2 separate regions of the Homo sapiens genome follow, and region 2 is linked to region 1. A link means that fine-mapping ties the variant in region 1 to the expression of a gene that starts in the linked region. Tissue or cell type: whole blood. Region 1 holds a variant in brackets; the other region holds the start of a gene. All regions are shown on one strand. Distances are between the middles of the regions.

Region 1 (2,847 bases):
CACTGTTAAAAGATGGGGAGATGCAGGTAGAGTAGGCAGCTTGAGAGGAAAAATCAAGGAAATACACCATCAAGAGCAGAAGCCCTTATACACTACTCTTCTGCAGACACTGGGAGGGGCTGCCAGGGGCTTGCCAATTTTTGAGGCAATATGTAGAGTTGGGAGAATGAGACCCCAGGAGTATTTATTCAAAGTTGAGAGGGGAAAGAACAGTCTTCAGGCCTACAACAAAGAGCTAAAGGTTTTCTTAGACAGGTTCTCCCATCCCCTACCCCAAGGCCTCTGCTATTAAAAAGGAACAGAGAATGCAACATCAAATGCATTAGATGCAGCTTAGAAGACAGATGTCACAAATATTTTTGGAGGAGTGTCTACAAGAACCCATCTGTACTAATCACAGCCAATTAGAGGTCTGGCTAAAACCAGCCACGTTAGGATCAATAATATTTTTTAAAAAGGATCCTGTCATTATCATTATGCACAGAAATAACACCAATACAGGAGAGAAAGAACATGGTATGAAAAACATCCAAGGAAGAACACATTCTGGGAAAACTAAGATCCAAGGAATACAAGAAATCTTCTAAAAATGCTTGTGCTATAGAGTAATTCAATAAGGACATGAATTTAATGAAATACACACCACCCAACATGATTTTTTTAAAAAGAGAGATGAAAAGCTATGAATTACTCTGAGAACAAAAATGTATTATGGAGCTAATAAATTTAGTAGGGATTCTCAAACGTGCAAAGACAAAGAGAAGAACATTTTTCTTCTCATTATTCAAGATACAGGTTGAGAGGAGAACATTTTAACTACTTGATACTTAAATCCACCCCCCTACCCAAGAAAAAAGGGAGGATCACAATGAAGAACTAGGGAATAAAATTACTACAGAATGAATGGTAATGAGGGCTGTTTTTTTACCCCAATCTTTATACATTTTATTTTTCTTTCTTGGCTTACTACATTGTTGTTAAGACCAGACATATTTTTTTCTTTTTTGTCCTTGTAAGAGGGTGGTTGGAACCATTTAATTGATCAATGTAGAACACATGGTATAATGAGAATTTAAATGTTAAATTGAGAAAAACAGTTACAGGAATAAATATGGGTCCGGAACAAAAATTTAAATAAGTAAATCTTGACAAAGTAAAAATAATTTTACAACAATTTAAAAAACAGTCCATAGAGGACAAAAGAGAGGGAGAAGAAATGTAAGCAAGGTTGAATGTCTAATCATGTGGACACAAACATACTGAGTCTCTCATAACTGTCTTACCTT[C/T]TTTCTTTCACTCATAGAGAAATATTACAAAACAAGGATTTCCTCTTGTTCAATATAGTTCTCTTGAAGAACAGCAATTTCTTTAGTTCTCTAGTTACTTTTTCTTTTTAAATTTGAGTAACATTAATTTTTTTGTTATTAAACCTATTTATTACTAAACAATGCCAGTTTTCTTTCTGTCTCTTCATCCATTCATCTTTTCATCTCTCTTTTCGCCTTACTACAATGCCCAACACTTATCTCCATAAATATTCATGAAGAGAGACAGCCAGGTGTTCACAGTTAACACTGAAAGGGAAATGCATGCACTTTCTGCTTTGTCAAACTACTATGTACTGCTGATTGCTAAGTAAAATAAAATACTTTAAAAAATAAAAACAATGGACTTCCACTTCCAGACAAAATGGAGTAAACACCTTTCTCTGCTTCTCCTATTAAGTGTAGATAACAATGCTGGAAGTTATATTTAAAACAAACATAAGATGAATATGAAAGGTAGAGAAAAGCAGGCTGGCTAAGGCCCCTGGGACTTGGGTGGTTTTGTCATCTCATGTATTCTATAGTTGGAGCTGAAGAAGAATCAACCTGGAAATGGTAATGGAAATAGAGGAAAAAAAAAAAAGCCCCACTAAAGGATCAGCCTAACAAGCCAGAAAACTTTTAGACAGTAACCACCCAACTCTAGGAAAACACCACAGGAAAAAAATGTGGCTCCATCCCCACCACCTTCAGCTAAGGAGGGGGCAGGGAGGCAGACTTCCATGCTCACCCCACCACCCAGGGCTCTCTAAAAAGAGATTTTTAAAGCACATCCCATGAAAAGGCCCCAGTGAGCAATTACATAAATGCTTGAATCAAAAGAAAAGGTAGAAAAATAGAAGTAAAATAGAAGACACACAGAAAAATCAAATAAAAATTTTAAGAATAAAAACATGAGGCCGGGCACAGTGGCTCATGCCTGTAATCCCAGTACTTTCAGAGGCCGAGGCGGGGGGATCACAAGTTCAGGAGATCGAGACCATTCTGGCTAATACAGTGAAACCCTGTCTCTACTAAAAATACAAAAAAATTAGCCGGGCGTGGTGGCCAGTGCCTGTAGTCCTGGCTGCTCAGGAGGCTGAGGCAGGAGAATGGTGTGAACCCGGGAGGCAGAGCTTGCAGTGAGCCGAGACCGCGCCACTGCATTCCAGCCTGGGTGACAGTGCGAGACTCTGTCTAAAAAAAAAAAAAAAAGAAAAGAAAAGAATAAAAACATGGAATAATTGCGCCTGTAATCCCAGCAATTTGAGAGGCCAAGGTGGGCAGATCACCTGAGGTCAGGAGTTTGAGACCAGCCTAGCCAACATAATGAAGCCTTGTCTCTACTAAAAATATAAAAATTAGCCAGGTGTGGTGGTAGGCACCTACAATCCCAGCTACTCAGGAGGCTGAGGCAGGAGAATCACTTGAGCCTGGGAGGTGGAGGCTGCAGTGAGCAGAGATCATGCCACTGCACTCCAGCCTGGGTGACAGAGTCAGATTCCATCTCAAATAAAATTTCAAACAAAATGAAAGAATTGAA
Region 2 (2,500 bases), 120 kb before region 1:
GGTGTCACAGACAGGTCAGTGCCTCTGGTGTCTAGAAAAGGGGCAGGGGCTTGCGGGGAGAGGGCTGTCGCGCAAGTGTGGAAGTGGAGTGCCGAGATTGGACGGACTAACCACGGGGAGGCACCGTTGGTAAGAACAGGCCTGGAAAGCAGCTGGCAGCAGTCACAGAATTAGGCCAGAGAGAGACCTCCATGGGAAAGCAGACGGGAGGTCCAAATGAGAGCGTGTGAATTAAAAAAAAAAAAAAAAAAAAAGACCAGGAACTATGTTGCTATGGGAGAGGTTCTCCAACTTCAGTGTGCGCCAGAATCAGCAGCGAACTGTGACAGATGTGGATTCCTGGTCCTCAGCCTCCCCCCTCCCCCCAGCCCCCGGCCCCCACTCGGATGCTGCAGGTCGGGGCCGACACACACAGATTTACAAAGCTCCTCTGGCTGCTCTAGTGCCCAGGGCCCACTTGGAGCTGAGCTCCCTTCAGCTCCAGCCTTCAGCTCCTGCACTGATGGAGAGAACGGGCGTTTCTTGATGCCACGCCAAGTGTCCTTCTGACCCCTGGTACCCTGTGGGCCCGACGTGGCGGCCTCGGGCCTCGCAGCGCCGCCCAACGCAGTAGGACCTAGCGATGGGAGCCACTGGGCAGTCGCGCGGCCCGGCCCTCCCCAAAAGCTTGGCTTGCAGACGTTAGCGTATGCCCCAGCCCCTGCGCATGGCGGTTGCGCTGTGGGCTGTGCGAATAAACCTCCGGGAAGGTCTCCGTGGTGACTGGCAGACGCCCTGGCCAATTGTGACCCGGCGCTTGTTTGTCTCTGCCCCATCCCTCCCCGGGGGGCCGATACTTCCATGACTGACAGGCCGTCCCAGGCGCTGTTACGTAAGGGGAGGGTCAAGTGCAGTCCCACCCAAACCGGGGTGATTTGATTTGCAGGACCGAGTGTGTTCTTCCCAACGCCCCCGGAAGAACGTCTTTGACGGGCAGGTGTGAGAGCCAGTTGGCGCCGGGAGGCCAGGCGGAAGCCTCGGGCCCCAGGATCGTGCAGCAGGGGGCGGAGCCCGCTGCCGAGGGCAGGGCAGGGCAGGGCAGGGCGGGGTGGGGCGGGGCGGGGATCAAGCAGGGGCAGGGCTGGCGCTGCGGCGGGAGATGCTGTCGGGCCGCGGCGGCGCTTGGCAGCCAGGAGCTCTGCATTGAAGGCACTGGGGTGAGGCTTACTGCCCGGCAGGCTGGTGGGTACGCGAGGGCTGAGGTGTCTGTAAATCTGGCCGCCAGCCTCCACGGGCCCGGCATTTGTCCATCTTTCTAGGCGCTCGCGACTCGGCGACGGCGGCCGCAGTGGGACACGGAGGCGGGGCCGGGCACCTGTGCGCGTTTGCAGGCACCTGCTGCGCTGGCCGCCTCGCAGCCCGGGACTGCTGCTGGGGACTGCGGCTGGAGCTGGGCTGGCCCGGCCCGAGGGAGAGGGGGGCCCAGCTGGCTCGCCCCGGCCCGTGCCCGCCCTCCCCGGCCGGGTCCCGACCCCGAGCTCTGGTTAAGGGGGCGTCGCCGGGCCCCAGAGCCCCCCCACTGGAGGGGCCCGCGGCTCCCGGGCCAGCATCGAGCTAGCTGCGAGGCCAGGACAGGGCCCCCGCCTTGCATCACCTCGAGACAGGTTTGTCCAGATTCCCTGAGTGCTCAGAGACGGGTTTCCGCCCGCGGTGAGGGTGCCGGTCCGAGGCCGCCGCGGGTCCCGGCTGTCCCCAGCGAGCCTGGCCCGGGCCGTTTTCATCTTTTTTTTTCTGGCCCCTGCTCTGTCTCCTCTTAACGTGTAATTTCTTAAGTCCGATTCGGGGTGATGTGAGTGCGCTGTGGCATGTAGAGTAACAGCAGCACTCATGTTTTAGCCTAGTTTTAGCTCTGCCACGCACTGTCATTCGCGCAGGCTGAAGACCCAGACTTCTCAGCTGGGTGATGTAAAGGAATGCAGCCGTGGCCAAACAGGCAGAAATTCTAAAATTGTTTCCAAGTGACAAGGATGTAACATGTCTTGCTTCCATCTATGTCATTCCTCTCAGAACATGTATGCTGTGCTTGTCCTAGACTAGACCCTGAAAAGTGTGCTACAGTTTCTCGTGATTATGTTGCTGCTGGAAACATTGGATTAAAAGATCCATAGCAAAGTTAGGCAGCAGAAGACAATACCTCCTGCTTAATGACAGGCAGAACTGGGGACAAAATTTACTGGATTCTTAAAGAGAATCCTAACGCGTTAGACCTTTAAGAGACTTTACAGGTTTGCACCAGCCCATTAAATGTATGTTGTGGAGCACACCACTGTGTCCCAAGGGATCCGGTCCCGTGTTAGGTGTGTCCTAGAGGACACTGGGGTGCTGCACATTACTGCTAGATCTGAAAATCAGTGTCTTCATTTGAGCCAAAGGGGAACATGCCCCCGCACATTTTTGATATCTCAAGTATATTCAGTGTGTCATACTCACCTTTAAAGGCAGATTTGCGGAGAACTGTTGT

What was found. PIP is the estimated chance that this variant, and not a neighbour inherited with it, causes the effect.
Region 2: it holds the start of AKTIP, and the variant in region 1 is fine-mapped to the expression of AKTIP in whole blood (TOPMed, PIP above 0.99).

What each region holds. Positions count from the first base shown.
Region 1 is chr16:53,385,767-53,388,613 of GRCh38, reverse strand. No RefSeq gene overlaps it. Among named protein-coding and RNA genes, the nearest start is that of RBL2, 47 kb to the left of the region's middle. The variant C/T (reference allele first, on the strand shown) is at 1,287.
Region 2 is chr16:53,501,843-53,504,342 of GRCh38, reverse strand. AKTIP (AKT interacting protein) reads left to right here and starts at 1,134. Exons shown (of 10, transcript NM_022476.4): 1 at 1,134-1,196. RefSeq lists silencers at 1-56, 777-1,016, 1,037-1,106, 1,367-1,666 and enhancers at 377-476, 937-1,436, 1,437-1,938.